Linked DNA regions of Homo sapiens. The protein of the gene in region 1 purifies or fractionates together with the protein of each later gene. This does not show direct contact. Each region holds a gene or a part of one and is shown on either strand. Other genes may lie near its edges.

Region 1 (11,714 bases):
AGAGTCTGAGGCGAGTGGATCATTTGAGGTGAGGAGTTCGAGGCCAGGCTTGCCAACATGGCAAAACCCTGTCTCTACTAAAAATACAGAAAATTAGCTGGGCATAGGCCTGTAGTCCCGGCTTCTTGGGAGGCTGAGGCAGGAGAATCTGTTGAACCTGGGAGGCAGAGGTTGCAGGGAGCTGAGATTGTGCCACTGCCCTCTAGCCTGGGTGATAGAGTGAGACTCCATCTAAAAAACAAAAAACAAAACTACTTTATGTTTGCAATAAAAATTCAATAAAAAGGCCGAGAATATGGGGGTTTACGCCTGTAATCCCAGCACTTTTGGAGGCTGAGGCAGGATTGCTTGAACCCAGGAAGTTGAGGCTGGAATGAGCTGAGATCACGCCACTGCACTCCAGCCTGGTCAACAGAGTGAGACTCTGTCTCCCCGCCCCCCCCCCCCAAAAAAAAAAAAAAAAAGCCGGGCGCGGTGGCTCACGCCTGTAATCCCACCACTTTGGGAGGCCGAGATGGGGGGATCACGACGTCAGGAGATTGAGACCATCTTGACTAACATGGTGAAACGCTGTCTCTACTAAAAATACAAAAAATTAGCTGGGCGTGGTGGTGGGAGCCTGTAGTCCCAGCTACTCCGGAGGCCGAGGCAGGAGAATGGCGTGAACCCGGGAGGCGGAGCTTGCAGTGAGCCGAGATTGCGCCACTGCACTCCAGCCTGGGCGACAGAGCGAGACTCTGTCTCAAAAACAACAACAACAACAACAAGACAAATGGATACTAAAAAACAGGTAATATATGAAGTATACAGATTGAGGTAAAAAGGAAGAGCTGGCAGTAAGGCAAGTAAGAATCAAAAGAAACTAGACAAGGTAATGAAAATCTCTAAGAAAACAAAAATACGTCTTGCTCTGTCCCCTAGGGTGGAGTGCAGTGGTGTGATCATAGTTTACTGCAACCTCAAGTTCCTGGGCTGAAGCAATCCTCTCGCCTCATTCTCCCAAGTGGGTAGGACTCTAGGCACATGGAACCATGCCTGGCTAACATCCTCACCTGTTCTTTTCCTCATCTGTTTGTTTTGCACCATATTGTTTAGTACATGGTAGTTCACTACATACTGATTGAATAAAGGAACACTCTCAAATCAATTCTTAAAAATAAATGCTCCAATGGAAAAATGGAAGAGGATACAATTTAGAAATGAAGAAATATACACAACCAATAATTACTACATTATAAACTCTGTGAAGGAAAACACATGTCCATCTTCTTTATCATATTTCCAGTGCCTAGCATTGTTTTGGTATATAACAGATTCTTAATAAACAACTGATGAATAAATAAATGAACAAGAAAAATTGTTCAGCCTCACTAATTTAAACAATGACAACAAAAAACACCATTCCTACCTAACAAAATGAAATCGATTTCTTTTTAAACTGCACAAACTCAGTGCTGGCAAGGGTATGGAAATACTTAGGATTTAATGCCTTCTTTTAAGATCAAAAGCTCTAGCTGGGCACAGTGGCTATGCCTGTAATCCCAAGCCTTTGGGAGGCCGAGGGAGGAGGATTGCTTGAGGCCAGGAGTTCAAGATCAGACTAGGCAACATAGAAACACCCTGTCTCTACAAAAAATTAAGAAATAATTAGCTGGCTGTGGTGCTGTGCACCAGTTATACAGGAAGCTGAGGTGGGTGGATCCCTTGAAAGCCTCAGGTTATGATCATGCCACTGCACTCCAGCCTGGGTGACAGAGCAAGACCCTGTCTCAAAGAAAAAAAAAAGGATACAAAAACCACCAAAAGCTCCTTGAAGGCAAGGAGTGTAACTATTTTGTTTATTGTAATAAACTTTCTAAAGTCTAGCACATGGTGCTTAATAAATATTTGTTTACTGGATCAGTGAATGGAGAACAAATCAATATCAATCTCCTGGAGGGTACTTTGGCTCTCTAGCTGTAAAAACATTCATACCTTTTGACCTAATTATTCCATTTATAACAACGTAGCCTTAGAAAGAAAATCATGGGGCCAAGCACGGTGGCTCATGCCTGTAATCCCAGCACTTTGGGAGGCTGAGGTGAGTGGATCACCTGAGGTCAGGAGTTCAAGACCAGCCTGGCCAACATGGTGAAACCCTGTGTCTACAAAAAATACAAAAATTAGCCGGGCATGATGGCGGGTGCTTGTAATCCCAGCTATTCAAGAGGCTGAGGTGGGAGAATCTCTTGAACCCGGGAGGTGGTGGCTGCAGTCAGCCGAGATTGTGCCATTACACTCCGGCATGGAAGACAGAGTGAGACTCCGTCTCAAAAAAAAAAAAAAAAAAAAAAAAAAAAATCAGGCCAGGCACAGTGGCTCACACCTTTAATCCCAGCAGTTTGGGAGGCTGATGCGGGTGGATTGCTTGAGTTCAGGAGTCCAAGACCAGCCTCGGCAACATGGTGAAACCCTGTCTCTACAAAAATAAAAAAATAAAAAAATAAAAAGCCAGACGTGGTGGTGTGAGCCTGTAGTTCCAGCTACTCAGAAGGCTAAGGTGAGAGGATTGCTTGAGCCCAGGAGGTCGAGGCTGCAGTGAGCTGAGGTTGTGCCACTGCACTCCAGCCTGGGCGGTAGGGCGAGACACTGTCTTAAAAAAAAAAAAAAAAAAAAAAAAAAGAAAGAAAATCAAAGAAGCACACAAGAGAATACAAGAGAATATTCATTCTAATCATATAAAAAGTAACATTTAAAAATAAAACATTTGACAGTAAAGCACTGATTACTAAGCAACTACTAAAAGAATATTTTTAGAGAATATACAATGAAATAGGAAACTATGGAATGAAAAAAATAAAATATAAATATATAATGTGATCTAATATAGTAAAAAAGGTACTTATATATGGAAACATGCTAAAAGGAAATTGATCAAAATGTCAATAGCAATTATCGCTGAGTGGTAGAATTATAGCTGATTTTTATTTTCTTCTATCTACTTTCTTCAATGAGCACATAATTACTTTCTTAAACAAAATCCAAAACCAAAATCAACTGGAAAATAAGAAGACAAGGCTCAGTTTAAAAGAGAAAATTAGGCTGGGCGCGGTGGCTCACACCTGTAATCCCAGCACTTTGGGAGGCTGAGGTGGGCAGATCACCTGAGGTTGAGAGCTCGAGACCAGCCTGACCAACATGGAGAAACCCCATCTCTACTAAAAATGCAAAATTAGCTAGGCGTGGTGGCACATGCCTGTAATCCCTGCTACTCAGGAAGGCTGAGGCAGGAGAATCGCTTGAACCTGGGAGGCGGAGGTTGCGGTGAGCCAAGATTGTGCCATTGCACTCCAGCCTGGGTAACAGAGCAAAACTCCATCTCAAAAAAAAAAAAAAAGAAAAGAAAGAAAGAAAATTAAAAATTAAAAAAATCAAGAAACGTCTTTTTTTTTTTTTTTTTTTTTTGAGACTGAGTCTTACTCTGTCTCCCCAGATGGAGTGCAGTGGTGCACTCTCGGCTCACTGCAAGCTCCGCCTCCTGGGTTAAAGTGATTCTCATGCCTCAGCCTCCCGAGCTGGTATTACAGGTGCATGCCACCATGCCCGGCTAATTTTTGTATTTTTAATAGAGACGGGGTTTCACCATGTTGGCCAGGCTGGTCTTGAAGTCCTGACCTCAAGTGATCCACCTGCCTCGGCCTCCCAAAGTGTTGGGATTACGGGCATGAGCCAGCATGCCTGGGCAAGAACTGTCATTTTTTTAAAAAGGACATGGTTCTTACAAGTTCGCTTCTGCTAAACAGTGGTTCTCAAACTTGAATGTGTATTAGAATTACCTGAAAGGTTTGTGAACAGAAACTGCTGCCTCTGCCCCTCCCTCTTACTCAGTAGGTCTGGATGGGGCCCCAAAATTTGCATTTCTAACAAGTTCCACTTCGCTAAAAGACGGCAACATAGAAAGCCCATATGGTGTAATGAAAATGATGTGGGTTTTGAGGTCAGTCTTGGCTCTGCCCTTTTTAAGATGTTTTGTAGAAATAGTTGACAGACTCTAATCCTGCTCAGCCTCTGTTTCCACACCAATAAAAGTAATGCACACTTCATAGATGTATTGTGAGGGTTAAATGGTATGATTAAATACCCAACATAGTGCTTGACTCAGTTAAGGATTTTAATTAATGGTGGTCCCCTTTCCTTTGATTTCCTCAAAGATACAGCACACTGGGTTTATGGTAACATGATTTAGGTGTACCACAGGTCAAATCATTTCCTTCAAACTTAACAAACCATACATGTTCATCTGCTACTAACAAAATCTTCATTGTTCATCTATAAAATTGGGAATAATAGTGTAACAGTATTTTCTTTGATAAAATAGATAATACTGTCTACTTTGTAGGCAACCATGAAGATTAAATAAAATAATATCAGTCAGGCACGGTGGCTCACATCTGTAATCTCAGCACTTTGGGAGGCTGAGGTGGGAGGATCACCTGAGTCCAGGAGTTTGAGGTCAGCCTGGGCAACAAAGCAAGACCCCATCTCTATTTTTTATATAATTATTTTTTTTAAAAAGTGGCTGGGCGTGGTGGCTCATGCCTGTAATCCCAGCATTTTGGGAGGCCAAGGTGGGTGGATGGCCTGAGCTCAGGAGTTCAAGACCACCCTGGGCAACATGGTGAAACCCTGTCTCTACTAAAATACAAAAAATTAGCCAGGCATGGTGGCACACACCTGTAGTCCCCGCTACTCGGGAGGCTGAGGCACAAGAATCGCTGGAGCCTGGGAGGCAGAGGTTGCAGTGAGACGAGATCACGCCACTGCACTACAACTTGAGCTACAGAGTGAGACTCTGTCTCAAAAAATAAATAAATAAATAAATAAATAAATAAATAAAATAAAAATAAAACAATAAAACAATATATATATATTTTTTAAATTCCATAACTGGCATATGGAAGATACATAGTGTTAACTGAAGAATCCCAAGGTTTATAAATTTGGAGAGGGGAGCTTTACTTTTTATAAAGGGTTGCAGCCTGCAGGCTGGTGATCCTGACAGGCTGGGAAGTGTAGACTCTGGCAGAGACTGAAAGCAGGTATTTAGAGGGAGGAAAAAGTGGAACACAAATTTATGCCAAATGAGTTGGCTAAGAATACACACTTAAGTTACAGGAGCTTTGATTATTCACAAAGCGGGGGGCAGCACATGCATGCATAGTGAGCAAACATGCATGTTACATATGTCCTATGTTCTCTTTGGGGTGGAGATTTAACATTTAAATGCATTACAATTAGGTGAAGCAAAGGACATGAAGACACTCAGTGCACAGCCTCTGAAAACCAGCCAGAACCAGTCTGTGGTTGGTAGTCTCTTACTAGGATGTTACTGAAATCAGTCTCTTGTCCAATCAAAGAAATAGTTATGGTTTGTGGAACAGGGGTTGGGGGGATACAGTTAGTCAGCATCTAGTGGTCAGTGAGCTACAATTGATTCAATATTGCTTATCTCCAGGCCAGTGTCTATTTAGCTACCAGAGAAAAAGAAAAACCTTGTGGCAGTTAGAAGATGGTTTACTCTTCAAGTGTAGGGATGTGTGACTTAACCCTTGCCTGACACAGCCTTAGGTCTTGTTTATAATTTGGCATCTTATTGCCTCAAAGAGTCTGTTCCATCGGTCATATGATCACTATTGTAACAATAGTAAATGGCACTTTCTTTTCCCACTCCCTTTGACTATTTACCCATAGCATCTTCCACACCTAGTTCAAAATTCATCTAGGATACTTCAAATCAATCTTTCCACCTTAATCAGATAGCTCTGTTTTGTGTCACATTTAAAGTAAATTATTTACTTTAAGTACTGCTAAGAACACACTCTATGTAAACTATTATACTGGATGCCCAAGGAGATAAGTAGAAGATGGTTCTCTGGCTTTGAGGTGTTTGGTTGAGACAGCAATATACATTAAAAGTTGAACAGGAATGCAAAGCAGCATGGGACAAATTATACAGAAAGTGTGATAGTTTTGAGATTATAGTGGCTGATCTGTTCATTATTTTGTACTCAGGAACTAAAAAATTACTAAGAGTTGTAAGAGCTCTGGTTTTATAGCTGAGATAATAAGCCCAGTGACACAAGTGGTCTAGGATCCCAGCTATGAAGTGGCAAGAGGTTTCCTGTCTCCTGGTCCTATGCTGCTTGTGCGTGGGTTTCTAACTATTCACGAGTCTTTTAATCAGTTAATGTTTGCTCTCTCTAAGTAGACAGTTTAGTATAGCCAGGTAAGAACTGGGCTTTGAAACTAAAATGTTTGGGTTTGAATCCTGGCTTTGCTATTTACTGTGTGACTTTGGGCAAGTCACTAATCTCTTTGCTTTACTTACCCACCTATAAAATGAGTATAATAATGGTACTTTACTTCATAGGGTGGTTGTGAGCATTATATACTTAATATATGTAAAGCATGAAAAACTGTGGATTTGTCATTATAATTGCTATTAGTCTGTGAGGGAATGGAGGGCAAGGAATCTAGTCATGTTTTTTGTTTTTTAAACCTCTTCCCTCAGCTTCTGATCAGAGCATTCACGTGGGTGTTAAATAAATGCATGTTAGCTACCTTAAGCATATTGGGAGTTTTTGTATCACTGAAGTAAGACTTGAGATTTGTGTAAGCCTGGACTAGTCTGGTACCAGAGAAGTCTAGAAAGGTAAAAACTGAGATAGCATCAGATTGATTTTAGGACCTAGCACAGCTTGTTTAAAAAAGTCAGTCAAGACAAATAAGTGCTGAGAGAAATGGGGGTCAATGAGTCTAATTCCAAATGAGCTTTCTCATCTATTTTAAGATCTGCTTCAAACTTCCTCAGACAAAAATCTGGCCTTTTAAGGAAAGTGCAGAGAACATGCCTTCGTGGGCTTAGTTTGAGGGAATAGGGGCTGCATTTCACCCTGGAGGTGGCTACATGAATTCGTGAACTGAGGTGACAACACTGACTCTCTCCGGAAGAAAAGATGCTATCTCTTCACGGAGTTTAATTACAATGGCACTACTTGAAACAAGCTGCAGCAGCAGCAACAACAAACGCTACTGTTAACCCAGTCACAGCTCAGCTCAATATTCAGATTAGAGAAAGCAAGAACCATTTTTTTCCCTGGGACACCCTTCTCTACTCAAATACCCGCTGAAAAAAAAATTCTGAGACAAGCACTAGGGAGTGGGGAAAGCGGGCAGAGATGAACAATAACCCATATTCAGGGGTTAGAAAAATAATATTAATAAATCATGGTAGGTTTTTTTGTTTGTTTTTGGCAGCAACTTGCCACTCTTCAGCATCATCCATCAGGAAATCTAGGTCGGAAAAGTGTACCAACTGACCTTCCAAATTTTCTGCATTTGGCAGATGCAAATCACACAGTCCATCCCCGCCCTCAGCACTTGGACGGTATCAGGGAAACGTAAGTATCAATGGAAGAATCTTGAAGTGAAAAATAAATAACTGGTCAGGTTAGGGTTAGTGTTCTTGTGTGCAAGGGAGCTAGTGAAGTTTAGGCTTTGATGCGCACCCACAGCGTCAGCAAAGGAGGAGGAATTAAGGGACAGCATGGGCCGAAAAGCCCCCGAGTTTTGAGGTCAAGCCAACGGGCTGGGTCTCCGGTATCCTAGGATCTGCCCTGCACACAACCTTTGGCAGTTTCTCGGTTTGAATCTCGCCTGTACATTTCCAGACGAGACACTGTCTTACTGAGCGTTCTCACAGCGCCTAGCTCAGAGCTGACCGCAGAGCCGGCTCTCAATAACATCGAGACGCAAAAGCAGCTTTTGAGGTTAGGGGCGGAAGGGCATCGGTTTTACTTATTTCAAGGCTGGCGCTCGGTGCAGCCGGATCCAACTGCCAGCACAATGTTCCCGATCACTTCTCGCTTCCATTTCAGCCCAGGAGACGTCGGGAAACCCACAGGACCCGCTAGGGGCTAAGCGGTTAAGCCGCGTCCTTCAGGTGTCAGTCTCGATCCGTTCGGAAACCACAACCTCCAGAATCCCTTGTGCCAGGAGGCCAGGCCGCAAATAAGATGGCTCCAGAAGGGTGGAACATACAGCGGGGGGGGGGGGGGGGGAACTTAGTTGTTGGCAGTTTCTTCACGGGATGTGTTTAAATTGCCGAGTCCCCACATACGCGCCACCCCACAAATCTCCTTCGAGGCCGTGGAGGCCACACGGCTGCCGCCTCGCCCTCTCCTCCAGGAGTATGCTGGGATTTGTAGTCCAGCAGCCGGACTGTGCCGAGCTACCTTTCCCAGCTTGCCCTGCGGCTCGGGTGATATCAACAGTCTTTTCCAGAACTCTGTCTGCACTGAGACCCTCTTCCCCCAGTCCTCTTCTCGCGGTCGACTCCTTCCCATCCGTGGCGACAGAACGGCGGTTGCAGGAGAGGCCCCGGTCCCTCGCCGCGCCGCCCCGAGGGGCACTTCCGGCGGCGGTTCACTTCCTGGTTGGGTGGATGGAGCCGGGCGGGAGCGCGCGCGGGGGAGGGGCGGCGGGTCAGTCTCCGCCCGGCGCTCCCGGGATCAGCTGGCGGGCGGGCGGGAGCCGAGCGCGGCCCCGGCTCTCGCTGCAGCGCCGCCTCTTCTCTGCGTCGCAGGCCGGCCCGGCGGCCGTGACAATGTCGCGGGGCTGGTAGCAGGGCGCCGGCCGCCGAGCCGTCTCAAGTGGGTGCTGCCAGGATGCCGCCTCGAGGGGCGGCGGGGAGACCCGGGAGGAGCGGGAGGCAGTGCCCGGGAGGGTCGGCGCTGCCGGAGCAGCTCGGATCCCTCCTTTCTCCGAGCTCCCGGCTCGGGGGTCCCGGGTTCTGGGGCCGGGGTCGCGTTTTCAGCCCCACGGTTTTTCTCGCCGGGAAAATACATGAAGCGTTTCCCCAGGATGATGGCTTTTGCTCCCCCTAGGACTCAGCGGTTGAATTTTTAAGCGTGTTACTGATTCATCCTCTCTTTCTTCCTCTGTCATCACAGGTTTAAACTTACACGAATCGCTTTCTGGAGGAGGAGGGGACCCGCTGCGCGATTGACACGCATATTCCTATAGGCATCCTCCCTCAGCCCCCACCCCCACGGCCGGATTCGGGTGGCTCCTCTCCGAGGTGAAATCTGAGAAGAAATCCTTGGATCTCTTTTCTTAAAAAAAAAAAAAAAAAAAAAAAATCTAGAAACCATCGGTATTTTGCTTTGCTGCTCCCTATTCGCAAGATGAAGAAGTTTTTCGACTCCCGGCGAGAGCAGGGCGGCTCTGGCCTGGGCTCCGGCTCCAGCGGAGGAGGGGGCAGCACCTCGGGCCTGGGCAGTGGCTACATCGGAAGAGTCTTCGGCATCGGGCGACAGCAGGTCACAGTGGACGAGGTGTTGGCGGAAGGTACGGTGGGGCTCAATGCGCCGTAAATTAAAATCTTGTGCTGATGCGGCAATACTGTGGTTTCTAGTTGTTGCATGTATGAATGGGCTTTGACCAGTTGACCCTCCCTTCCCCCTTCACTTGCCCTGTGAGTCATTGTCCTTGAGAGATTTAAAATTGAGATTTGAAAGTGACTGGGCTTATGGGGGTGTGGGGAGGTTGCCGAAATTGTTTACGTTAGTGGCCTTTTATTTTTATTTTTTTAATATTGAGAAGCCAAATTTTGAGGATCACACAAGAAAACGTATGTGTGAAAGTGTAAAGCTTTATGCCAAAGGCAGGGTGATGGGCTTGTCATCCTCCTAAAACTTAAAATCTTGATGTGAAGGCTGAAGGGTGGGGGGACTTTTAAGAAGAGAGGGGTTTCTCCTTCTCCTACCCAACTTTCCCACTTCCATGAGCAGGCATTGGAAGGAAGAGAGGATTTTCGGAGAACGTGAACGTGTTTTTCCAAGGGCCAAGGCTCTTGGTGGATTTCACTAGTAGATTTGTTTCCTGACCCAACTGTAATCAGGTCCCCAGGTTATAGCAAAGATAACAGAAATTACATAAAACAAATGTGGTTATTTTGAACTCAGTCTAGTAGGCCCCTCTTCCTTCTCGCTTTAGGTTTTGTTTTTTGTTTTTTTAATCAAAAGAAAAATTACTTGAGAGTGGCTCTGATTTTGTTTTTTCGCTATCAGAGAGGATGTTATTTAGATCTGCTGCATAAATTCCCTCTGTGTTTCATCTGTGTGTCTATACTCACGTAGATATACATCTTGATTCCCCCAGGCTTTCGGGAAATCTTTGCATGTCTCTTTTGGTAACCTTAACCTCGACCTTCATAATTATGCCAGACTCATACTTTTCACAGCCCTTCGCCTGCCTAGTGTGCTTTTATTTTTAATAAAAGCAGCAATTTCCTTGGCATGAAGCAATTCAGACTGATTGGATGGGGCCAACCTGCTGTAGGTTGTGTTATAGACCGAGAGGGGTTGGAAGAAGGGAGAGGTCTCTCTTACTGCAACATGGTGATGGTAGGGAACAGTTTTATTAGCAAGGGAAGAGAGAAAGCTAAGAGGCCTCTTTAAAAAGGGGCCTTTTGCAAGCTAAAGTTGAAGCAAGGGTCCTGACCTGGGCCTGGGAAATGCTTACCATGGTGGATGTTGCGGGCTGGTGGGTGGGTTTGGAAGAGGAAGAAGCTGTGTTTGGCTCTCAGCTTGTGTAAGCACTGGATTCAGCAGGGCCCAGTTTTCTGGGAATAGAGTTGAAGTCTGTACTTTAAAAACATGATTTTTAAAAAAGATCTCTGACAGTTAATGTCCATGTGAAATTATTGCTCTTCCAATCTCAGTACTGTTCTAGCTGCGCTTTATCTGGGGCCAGAGTCACTGTCCCCTTGGATCTTTCCCGTGGACTTTGGTGCAGGCTAGGAGATGCTTCTGTGCCCGCTGCCAGATCCGCACCCTTGAGTCTGATCTGTCTCTTTCATCCCTGTGCCAAAGCCCTTAACTGCAGTGGGGTGGAGAAACAGTGAAAAGGAGAGTGTGTCAGAGAGAAATCAGGAGAAACGAAGGGCCACAGAACACTTTCCTCCCCTCTGAATGGCCTCTGCTGACCTTATAGCCCACGAGCGTTTTGTTCAGCTAGGATGTTGTCTCATCACGGATGATGCTGCCCTAAGCGGTGCATGTTCTCCAAGTGTGAGAGAAGTGATAGGGAAAAGAAAAGGCAAAATTGGTCTTTGTTACCTAGGCTGCCTTCCTCTTCTCTGGGATTCATCTTTGAGAACTGCGCATCACGTATTGTGATATTTTTACACAGAATTTAGGACTTGTAGCTCTGCATTTATTCATTCAACAGTTTATGGAGTTGCCTGTGAAGTGCCAGGTGCTGTGCTAGGCTCTGGGGGTATACTGTTAAACTAGATGCTAGCTTTTACCAACTGCTTTAAGAGATGGAAAATAGCCAGTTATAGTGGATTGGTAAATGCCATCATAGAGATAAACTTAGGGTGCAGTGGCCCCCAGTTTTAGGGAGCCCAGGATTTCTGAAGGAAGTGACTGAAGAGTGAGTAGGAGTTAGTGTGGTGGCACCATGGGCAAAGACAGAGTAGCGAGAGAGAATGTCACGTAAAACTGGGTCTGGCTATGCGCCCTTTTTGTGTTCTTTGGCTTAAGTTGAGTTTGAATTTGTGGCTCTTAGAAGTATGTAGATATGTAGGAGCCAGTATACAAAGTATTTATGTAGCACCTACCAAGTCCAAAGACCCTATGAAGTTCTGAGATGGATGAGGGAGGTCTATA
Region 2 (11,640 bases), on another chromosome or scaffold:
GAGAAGTACCCTGTAGAAGGTATGCTTTTCTGAATGACCTTTTTTCAACTTTATTTTTGAGTACTGTTGTGCATGTATGTGCACAGTGTATTGTTACCCTAATATTTCATCACATCTGAGATGCTATCAACTTTAAAATGTACCATATTTTATGTACCACATTATCAGTTATAAAGTAGATCCCAATTTCTCACATGTTAAAATGATCAGGTAGTGGAGAGGGATGATTGCATCCTAGAATGAGTGAAATATGTGAATTATACCAATTTTTATTGAGCCATGTTGGACTTAAGAATTTTAGAAATAATACGAATGAAATCTTAATTCCACTGGGAAGGAATTCATTTGAATTTCAGTAACTACTGTAACAGCAGTCGTAACTTTAGTGATAGCATTATGGTATATAAAATATATTCCAATAAAGCTGTTAAAAAAAAAAGCCAACCCCTTGTCTATGGAAGGGTCCTCTTCTATTGCCAAATGCTGAAGCATTAGCAAATATTTCTATGACAAAAGGTGTAGAACAGTAATAGTCTATTTAGCCTCTTTCTCTCCTGCTCTCCTTTCCATATTCTTATGTGGCATATTAACTTAACACTAATGTATGCAGGGTTTTGTTGGTTTGGTGTTTTTTTTTTTGTTTGTTTTTTCCTTCTTTTTGGCTAATACATAAATCTTGCTTTTGGCAGCCTTGCTTTTTTTTTTTTTTTTTTTTTTTTAAGCCTGTCTGTTTTGTTTTTCTTTACCTTCCCAGCTTCCAGTTTCCCAGCCAGTACCAACTATCCAAGGCGAACCTCAGATCCCAGTTGCGACACAACCCTCGGTTGTTCCAGTCCACTCTGGTGCTCATTTCCTTCCAGTGGGACAGCCGCTCCCTACTCCCTTGCTCCCTCAGTACCCTGTCTCTCAGATTCCCATATCAACTCCTCATGTGTCTACGGCTCAGACAGGTTTCTCATCCCTTCCCATCACAATGGCAGCTGGCATTACTCAGCCTCTGCTCACGTTGGCTTCATCTGCTACAACAGCTGCGATCCCGGGGGTATCAACTGTGGTTCCTAGTCAGCTTCCAACCCTTCTGCAGCCTGTGACTCAGCTGCCAAGTCAGGTTCACCCACAGCTCCTACAACCAGCAGTTCAGTCCATGGGAATACCAGCTAACCTTGGACAAGCTGCTGAGGTTCCACTTTCCTCTGGAGATGTTCTGTACCAGGTATTGTGTTAGTTAGCAAAAGAGGGCACCACAGAGTTTGATCCTAGTAGATCATCAGGAACATGGAAATCTAATAGTTGAGTGTCAGAATAACTAGCAATAACATGTCAACTAGAGAAGCAAAATAGTAAAATTCTGAGAAAGGATTGGATAATGATGTTCAGTGATTCCTGATCCATTTTTCTCAAGACACTTCTTCAGAGAAAAATGGTTCTCTCAGTATTCACTGTAAGCTGATTGAATGCTAGATGTGGTTAATAGTACACCTGGCAACTTTTACATATATGGGTAGAATAAATAGAATAGCCAACATGGTATCAACAAAAAGCTTCGGGGTTTAGACTGGGAAAATTAGCATTTCATGATATGACTGTTATGTGGAAGAATTTTTGCATTTTTCCATTTAAGATTGGCTAGGAAGAAATTGTGTTCCTCCTATTTAAATCATCTCTAGGTGAAGATAACCGACAATAAAGTAGTATTGTAGAGTCCTGTCTCTTCTGTTGGAACCAGTCTACTACTTCATTTCAAGAATGTGGTCTTTATATGCCCTTTAGATTATTAGAAAGAGATTGGCTACTATTCTTCTTTGCTGTGTGCTTCTTTTTTTTTTTTTTGCATGTCTTGCTGTTTTGCTAATTTATTGACCCCCAACCTGCTCTAACTCACCTTCCTCATTTCTGTCACAGGGCTTCCCACCTCGACTGCCACCACAGTACCCAGGAGATTCAAATATTGCTCCCTCTTCCAACGTGGCTTCTGTTTGCATCCATTCTACAGTCCTATCCCCTCCCATGCCGACAGAAGTACTGGCTACACCTGGGTACTTTCCCACAGTGGTGCAGCCTTATGTGGAATCAAATCTTTTAGTTCCTATGGGTGGTGTAGGAGGACAGGTTCAAGTGTCCCAGCCAGGAGGGAGTTTAGCACAAGCCCCCACTACATCCTCCCAGCAAGCAGTTTTGGAGGTAAATAGAATTACTGCATGTTTATATGTAAAACGTATATATGTAATTGGACAACAATGATAAAGGAGAAAGAAACAGGCTCCCCTGGTTTAGAACTTATTTGGAGACCATGTCAAACTAACTTCTGCATGACTTTTTCTTACAGCAGAATGAAATGCCAATGTGGGGTCCTTGTTTCCACTGGCTGTTCTGTTGGGAAGTGAGTGTGCCTTGGAGAAGATGAACCCTATTAGCACTTCACTTCTCTAGCTAGTACTTTAGCCATTATTCTTGTCCTTTCACAAACTTTTTCCATTGGCAGTCATAAGAGTATCTTACCCTCCTGTGCTCTCAGCAATCATTTTTGCCCTGCTAGGAGAAGATCTGAATTCATCTTTGTACTATGCTCTGTCTGCGCTATTGCACACTCTTGGTAAGATGCTGGCTGCATGGCAAGTTGTAGGTTCACACTGCCTAGCAGATATGTTGGCTGACCTCATACCATGCAGTCTATACCAGAGACTAGCTTTAGCAACTTCCTTTGGAATTTTAAGACCATTATCTCTAGATGCTGAATATTGAGAATTTACTAGTAAATTTAGTGCTTCTAGGACGTAGTGGGGAGGGATAAGGAAAAAAATAAGTAGATTATTGGGGATAGTGAATGATAAATCTATTACTACCGAGATTTGAGTTATCTTTTCGATTCACAGAGTACTCAGGGAGTCTCTCAGGTTGCTCCTGCAGAGCCAGTTGCAGTAGCACAGACCCAAGCTACCCAGCCGACCACTTTGGCTTCCTCTGTAGACAGGTACGTAAAACTAGAATTCTCCTTCCTTGACTGGTAAATAAGACGGTATGAAACGCCAAACTGTCAGACCTTTAAATCTCATATTATAAACTGCACTTTTTTTTCTTTTTAAATTTCAAAGTGCACATTCAGATGTTGCTTCAGGTATGAGTGATGGCAATGAGAACGTCCCATCTTCCAGTGGAAGGCATGAAGGAAGAACTACAAAACGGCATTACCGAAAATCTGTAAGGAGTCGCTCTCGACATGAAAAAACTTCACGCCCAAAATTAAGAATTTTGAATGTAAGTATTCCTAATTTGTGAGTTTCATGTTGTTAAAGGAATTTGACACTGAAAAAGATTTTAGAGGTCATCAAATCCAAACCACTCACTTCATAAAATAAAGATAACTATCTGTGTGTGACAGATAATTTTTTTTTTTTTTAGACGGAGTCTCGCTCTGTCGCCCAGGCTGGAGTGCAGTGGCATGATCTCTTCTCACTGTGATTGCAGTGCCTCCTGGGTTCAAGCGATTCTCCTGCCTCAGCCTCCCAAGTAGCTGGGACTACAGACACGTGCCACCACGCACGGCTAGTTTTTGTATTTTTAGTAGAGACAGGGTTTCACCATATTGGTCAGGCTGGTTTCAAACTCCTGACCTCAGGTGACTCACCTGCCTCAGCCTCCCAAACCACTGGGATTACAGGCACCCAGCCAGATAATTTATATAGTACTCTTCTCATTTCATGCCCACAGTCTCTTTGACTTAAATATCACATTTTTAGAAAAATGAAAAGGTAGTTCATAAAGCTATGATAGGGCCAGCAGTTAATATCATTTAAATATTTCTTAAGGCTTAGATGAATTGATGAATGTATAGGATCTTATAATTAGCCAAATGATATTCTTACATTCCATATTTCTATGATAAAGCACTACTTATCTTTTAGAAAAAGAATAGAGAGTTTTAGTAAGTAGCTCAAAGGCTAACGTCTTCTCAAAGATTTTTCTTGCTACCAGTTTAAGAGACAAAGTACTAGTGCTCCAAGGAACAGCGATAACACTATGCTTCCTTAGACATAAAGTCAAGTGCTAATCTGCATTGCTTTTCTGAAATTCAGTAATAAAGCTGAATATGGTCTTTGGAGATGATGTACCTTTTTTCTTTTTAGGTTTCAAATAAAGGAGACCGAGTAGTAGAATGTCAATTAGAGACTCATAATAGGAAAATGGTTACATTCAAATTTGACCTAGATGGTGACAACCCCGAGGAGATAGCAACAATTATGGTACGTCTGCATTTGGAGTTCTAGGTTTTTCCTTAGTACTTGATCTTAATAGCCATTGCTCTAGGCAAATATGCCATATTTTATAATCCATGTTTTTTTAAAGTTATGCATTTACTTCAATGTGAATAAAACTATCACACCCAACCTGTGATTTAGTGATGTTTTTGTCTAGGCTATGTCTAACTAGATATTGAAGTTCTTAAAAAGAGAAGAGCTAACTTGAGTACAAAATAAATAAAAATATAGGTAAGTATGCAGATAGGACAGAAGTCATAAAAGTGACATAAAGTTTGAGAAATGACACTAATTAGACTGACATCACATTTCTTTTACAGGTGAACAATGACTTTATTCTAGCAATAGAGAGAGAGTCGTTTGTGGATCAAGTGCGAGAAATTATTGAAAAAGCTGATGAAATGCTCAGTGAGGATGTCAGTGTGGAACCAGAGGGTGATCAGGGATTGGAGAGTCTACAAGGAAAGGATGACTATGGCTTTTCAGGTTCTCAGGTAGGTTCACCACTCCCATAGTGAAACTTTGTTGATTTAAAATATTTTCATAGTTCTAAATTTGCTATGCAAAATGTCCAGTGATATCACCTGACACCCATGACCGACAACAAACTTTTATGTTCTCTTCACATGTGGCAGTTTGCTTTGCCTAGTCATTGAGATTGCATTTGAGAATGTATTTAATCACTTTTGTTTGTTGTAGAAATTGGAAGGAGAGTTCAAACAACCAATTCCTGCGTCTTCCATGCCACAGCAAATAGGTGAATTTATTTTCTTTCCTTGTTTTTACCTTTGACTTAAGAAGCCATTAGCCGAGGGTGGTGGCAGGCTTCTGTAGTCCCAGCTACTCAGGAGGCCGAGGCACGAGAATCGCTTGAACCCAGGAGGCGGAGGTTGCAGTGAGCTGAGATCGCGCCACTGCACTCCAGCCTGGGTGAGAGAATGAGACCGTGCCTCAAAAAAAGCAGTTGTATGTGCCAATAATGAAGTCTAACAATATTTATAATAATAATGCTATTAAGTTACGTTTGTTTGTTTGTTTTTGACCAGGCATTCCTACCAGTTCTTTAACTCAAGTTGTTCATTCTGCGGGAAGGCGGTTTATAGTGAGTCCTGTGCCAGAAAGCCGATTACGAGAATCAAAAGTTTTCCCCAGTGAAATAACAGATACAGGTAAGGGATTGATTCTGCCACATTGTTATGTAAATTCTACAGTGCCTCTGCTATGTTGAAAGCTTAATCATAAAGCAGTAATTTATGATGACACAGATAATAAAAAAGAATAGAAAACTGAAGTTATAACCAACAGATAAACATATGGGAGAGGGAAATAGATGAAGAATACAGAGAATTACAGAAAAAGCCAAGAAGCACGGCCATACCAAGATATAGTCTGTATAATAGATATTGTAGTATGTGTTTATTTCTGCACTTAGTACTGTTGTCTATGTTTTAAGATTACTCCATATTTTTTATCAAAAACAGATATTTATAGGAGCTGACTTAGGCTAGCAGACAATCTTTTGAATCCATCCTTTTAAAATCAGCTGATTCTTATCTTTTTGTATTCCTTTGCAGTTGCTGCCTCTACAGCTCAGAGCCCTGGAATGAACTTGTCTCACTCTGCATCATCCCTTAGTCTACAACAGGCCTTTTCTGAACTTAGACGTGCCCAAATGACAGAAGGACCCAACACAGCACCTCCAAACTTTAGTCATACAGGACCAACATTTCCAGTAGTACCTCCTTTCTTAAGTAGCATTGCTGGAGTCCCAACCACAGCAGCAGCCACAGCACCAGTCCCTGCAACAAGCAGCCCTCCTAATGACATTTCCACATCAGTAATTCAGTCTGAGGTTACAGTGCCCACTGAAGAGGGGATTGCTGGAGTTGCCACCAGCACAGGTGTGGTAACTTCAGGTGGTCTCCCCATACCACCTGTGTCTGAATCACCAGTACTTTCCAGCGTAGTTTCAAGTATCACAATACCTGCAGTTGTCTCAATATCTACTACATCCCCGTCACTTCAAGTCCCCACATCCACATCTGAGATCGTTGTTTCTAGTACAGCACTGTATCCTTCAGTAACAGTTTCAGCAACTTCAGCCTCTGCAGGGGGCAGTACTGCTACCCCAGGTCCTAAGCCTCCAGCTGTAGTATCTCAGCAGGCAGCAGGCAGCACTACTGTGGGAGCCACATTAACATCAGTTTCTACCACCACTTCATTCCCAAGCACAGCTTCACAGCTGTGCATTCAGCTTAGCAGCAGTACTTCTACTCCTACTTTAGCTGAAACCGTGGTAGTTAGCGCACACTCACTAGATAAGACATCTCATAGCAGTACAACTGGATTGGCTTTCTCCCTCTCTGCACCATCTTCCTCTTCCTCTCCTGGAGCAGGAGTGTCTAGTTATATTTCTCAGCCTGGTGGGCTGCATCCTTTGGTCATTCCATCAGTGATAGCTTCTACTCCTATTCTTCCCCAAGCAGCAGGACCTACTTCTACACCTTTATTACCCCAAGTACCTAGTATCCCACCCTTGGTACAGCCTGTTGCCAATGTGCCTGCTGTACAGCAGACACTAATTCATAGTCAGCCTCAACCAGCTTTGCTTCCCAACCAGCCCCATACTCATTGTCCTGAAGTAGATTCTGATACACAACCCAAAGCTCCTGGAATTGATGACATAAAGACTCTAGAAGAAAAGCTGCGGTCTCTGTTCAGTGAACACAGCTCATCTGGAGCTCAGCATGCCTCTGTCTCACTGGAGACCTCACTAGTCATAGAGAGCACTGTCACACCAGGCATCCCAACTACTGCTGTTGCACCAAGCAAACTCCTGACTTCTACCACAAGTACTTGCTTACCACCAACCAATTTACCACTAGGAACAGTTGCTTTGCCAGTTACACCAGTGGTCACACCTGGGCAAGTTTCTACCCCAGTCAGCACTACTACATCAGGAGTGAAACCTGGAACTGCTCCCTCCAAGCCACCTCTAACTAAGGCTCCGGTAAAATTATTGTTATAAAATAATTAGATAAATATGATCAGTTTTTTTTCTCCCTAATGAGTACATTTTTCACTTCAGCCTTGTAAGTTAGAAACATATTTATAAAGGTACCTGGCTTATAGTATTTATTAAATTGACAGCAGTTTGAGGGTATATCTACAATGAACATGAGATTTTTTTTTCAAGTGTGGCAGGATTTTAGGGTTAATTATGCTGCACAGTTTTCCAAGATGGTATAATTATCGGGTAAAATACAGGTATTTCTTCTGAATTGGTACAAACTGAAGAAGTCTGTATCCCAAAAGGGAGCTAAATGCATCTGTCAGCAAAATGTACGTAAATAATAGCAGTTCATAGTCTTTGTTTCAGTGAGAATGAAGCAAATTTTTGGTTTTGTTGTAGATTCCACAGTTGTACAGTTTGGGGGTTATAAAAAATTGGAAGTTAGTAAGGAAATTGATACAGAGGAGAAATAAATAATCTAATCCTAGGACTGAAGTAACTAAAATTTATTATCTAATTATGCTGTGGTGGATTTCCTCTTGTTCTGCCACCTTCTCCAAATAACAAGGCTGTGTTACGTCTACTGTATTGTATGCTTCAGCCTCTTTCTGCATTGCCATTGATGTGAGGTTCTTTTTATAGTAGGATAATGCAGAATCTTCACTCAGATAAAATAGAAATTCTTGATAATAGTATTAGATTTCTGATGCCTTTTGTTATCAGACCTGCCCATTGGTTATTTCTTAACCAGTTACTGTTTTCTTTTCTCAGAAAATCTTGTTTTACATGGCGAAAGTCTGATACATACTGTACCAAATAAGTAGCTCAAGAATATCTGGACACTGCCACTTATGTACATATAGCCTTTGTTCTGTTCTCCCTAGGGGACAACTTTTTACTGTATTTTACTATTCATTTTATAGGTATATCGTAGTAACCCCTATAATAACAACATTAGTTGTCACACCGTTTTTTTAAGACAGATACCAGAGAGTAACCTCAGTGATAAACATGTCTTAACTATATATATTTTATTCTTATGTTTGTGCATTCAAATTAGTTGATTTGCTCTTCAGTACGCAGTCTTTATATTTAGCGTCTCACGGACTTGATTTTCCCTTTGTTGTCTGTAGGTGCTGCCAGTGGGTACTGAACTTCCAGCAGGTACTCTACCCAGCGAGCAGCTGCCACCTTTTCCAGGACCTTCTCTAACCCAGGTGCCTCAAGACTTGACAAATTTCTTCCTGTGCCCTACTTTCTTTGACAAAGCTTGCTGAAGTTCTCCACTACGTGGTCTTGGCTTTTGCCTATTTGTCTTTGACTTAGTAACACCTTTCTTTTAAAATGTTATAACCAATGACCCAGTTCCTACTTAAGTAAGAAGCTTCATAGCTCTTTTGTTTGTAATGTTGCTTCCGGTTATCCAAAAACACTTGATACTAATTTTTTTTTTATATCTTATGAAGGAAGAAAACAGCAAAGCAAACATTTTGTCAGACCCATATAGCTCCCTTTATCACTCACACTTCTGTAGAATAGCGAAATTGCGTATATAATCAAAATTAACTTTGAGAGTGCCCTAGAAAGGAGAAGCACAATATGGCAACTGAGAAACTTTTTCCGCGAGTCCAGAGCAACCAGTCTCTTCTTGAATGTTGATCATTTCTTTCACTAGCCACCTAATGAAGGAATTAGCTTACTTATAGGTAGGTATAGGGGTGATGTTTCATGAAAACTATGTGTGCTGTCTCTTTTAAAATAAAAGCCACCGAGCTCAGTGAGATGCTAACATTATGAGATCACTCATGGAGGAACTGAGACCAGCCTCATGAACTTGAGATTCCCATCTCACACAGTTCTGCTCACTTGAGTGCAGTGGTGGACAGAATTACCTGTAATATTTATTATTTCTCTTTCCCACCGCAGTCCACCGCCAACACATTTGTTGAATTTCCATAAGAAAAGTACTAATTGTGAATCTGTTGTGACCAGGAAAAATCTTCTGACATGAGACAAGCCAGTAAACTTTTAAACTAAATTAGGAATTTATTTTTGAATCATATATAAGAAATAAGAAAAACATGGTAAATTGCTTACTTGAGAAGCTGAGTTGGAATTTATCCCTATTTCTTTGGTCCCAATGTACAGGGGAACACTATTTGAGGAACTTGCCACAATGAAGTAAAAACCCCAACAGAGAAAGCACTCCATCAGCCACCACATTTGGGGGAAAGTGCATTGTGAAAGTCCGTAAATCAGGAGTTAGAAAATTAGTTTTAAACTTATTTTCTCATTTAAAAACATGGATTCAGATTTCTAAGGGAGTATAAAGTGTGACAAAAAATAGCAAGTGAGACATGTGGAGGGGTAAGGGTAAATAGCTAGTGCCTAGATAGAGGGAAAGGCCTAAGCAAAGACTGTGCAAGAATAGATTGATAGAAGCCAAGACAGATGTAGGATTAGACTGTGGAAGGGTAGAAGGAAGCTGTGTGCTTGCGGTGGATGGAATGGTTAACAGGATGGAATACCCAGACCTCCTTGCCACCATCTGTAGGGAAGAAGTATACATGTAAGAAAGAGGAAAATAATACCCTGTGATAGTGACAGAATATGTTAATGCCATCTTTTATTCATAGGGGCACCTTCCCAGAAAGATGTATAAAACTGAGAAAGAAAAGAGGGAACATGAGATACAGTGAATCTACCAGTAGATCTTTGTACATTTTTCACAATATATTTTAAAGGTCGCACAAATAAATAACTCTTTCTACCGTTTTGAGTAACATCAAACATAGAATGTAATAAGACTTCTCTTAAACTGCAAAAACATGAACTACTCTGAGCCTTGAGAGTCTGACATACAATCTTGAGAAACTGGCAAAATAATCAAAGCAGTACACTAAATTTGAGTATAGTTTTGTATGTTCCATAAAGACAAATGTTATGTTGTGCCAATATAAAGCATAAAACAGTGTGTCCTATCTAAATTGGCTATATATCGTGACTCTGAAGGTGCCACGGAACTGTATTTACTGTGATTGTTTTCATTCAGTCCCAGCAACCTCTAGAGGATCTTGATGCTCAATTGAGAAGAACACTTAGTCCAGAGATGATCACAGTGACTTCTGCGGTTGGTGTAAGTTTTGAAAATCTTGATAAAATCTCCTCATAACCCTAATATATTATATGCCTGGGACACAAACTGTAACCTAAACCATTATTAATACCTTTAACATGTATTCAGAGTTCCTGCTTATTCTAGCCAAAAGAAATGAGACTGATTAATGAAAGATTCATGCTGACTCAGGAGTATCACTATGGAAAAGATTTTATTTGAAAGGTGCTTTTTTAGTTGTACGTCTGGTCAGATTGTGCCATAGATCAATTCTATGGATTTCGTATTTTTGTTTCAGAGGAGGCTAAATTTTGTCAGATAAAATAATGTTTTGGGCTAGGTGCAGTGGCTCACGCCTGTAATCCCAGCACTTTGGGAGGCCGAGGCGGGCGGATCACAAGGTCAGGAGATCGAGACCGTCCTGGCTAACACGGTGAAACCCCATCTCTAGTAAAAATACAAAAAATTATCCAGGTGTGGTGGTGCACGCCTGTAGTCCCAGCTACTCGGGAGGCTGAGGCAGGACAATGGCGTAAAACCCAGGAGGCAGAGCTTGCAGTGAGCCGAGATTGCACCACTGCAGTCCAGCCTGTGTGACAGAGCGAGACTCCATCTCAAAAATAATAATAATGTTTTGATTGAAACTGTTTTTCTGTGAATATCCAAGTTATACCCTTAAGCATCCTATGAGAAAAATTAAGAAAGCAATCAAGAATTAAGAGTAGAAATTCATTCTTTTAAAATGTACCTTTTTTTTTTTTTTTTTTGAGACAGGAGTCTTGCGCTGTTACCCAGGCTGTAGTGCAGTGGCACGATCTTGGCTCACTGCAACCATCACCTCCCAGGTTCAAGTGATTCTTCTACCTCAGCCTCCCGAGTAGCTGGGATTACAGGTGCCCGCCACCACACCCGGCTAATTTTTGTGTTTTTATTAGAGGCGGGGTTTCGCCATGTTGGCCAGGCCGGTCTCGAACTCCTGACCTCAAATGATCTGCCCACCTTGACCTCCCAAAATGCTGGGATTACAGGTGTGAGCCACCATGCCTGGCCCTAAAAGGTGCCTTTCTTTACATCAGACTTTTAGACTTTAAAAGAAAAAGGAAAGAAGATAAAATGTTCTCAGACATAAGTGTTTCATCACATATACTGTCTTTCTGCCCTTTTACAAAGACCATAGGAAAGGCAACGAGGCAAAAGTTTGAGTGACTGAAGCTAAAGATTTGTGGTGTCTGTCTGTGTGTGTTTTACAGCCTGTG

Evidence for each region.
Region 2: the proteins of AAK1 (region 1) and WNK1 purify together in Homo sapiens (affinity purification with mass spectrometry; 2 studies listed by BioGRID and IntAct, with this or other methods). This does not show direct contact.

The regions. Positions count from the first base shown.
Region 1 is NC_000002.12:69,640,551-69,652,264, reverse strand, and holds the start of AAK1 (AP2-associated protein kinase 1), read left to right. Parts: upstream 1-8,525; 5' UTR 8,526-8,690; intron 8,691-8,990; 5' UTR 8,991-9,224; coding exon 9,225-9,387; intron 9,388-11,714.
Region 2 is NC_000012.12:878,819-890,458, forward strand, and holds part of WNK1 (serine/threonine-protein kinase WNK1), read left to right. Parts: intron 1-754; coding exon 755-1,213; intron 1,214-1,902; coding exon 1,903-2,181; intron 2,182-2,873; coding exon 2,874-2,971; intron 2,972-3,092; coding exon 3,093-3,255; intron 3,256-4,124; coding exon 4,125-4,241; intron 4,242-4,576; coding exon 4,577-4,750; intron 4,751-4,955; coding exon 4,956-5,013; intron 5,014-5,302; coding exon 5,303-5,425; intron 5,426-5,830; coding exon 5,831-7,266; intron 7,267-8,402; coding exon 8,403-8,486; intron 8,487-10,321; coding exon 10,322-10,405; intron 10,406-11,634; coding exon 11,635-11,640. UniProt on the Homo sapiens protein: Serine/threonine-protein kinase component of the WNK1-SPAK/OSR1 kinase cascade, which acts as a key regulator of blood pressure and regulatory volume increase by promoting ion influx.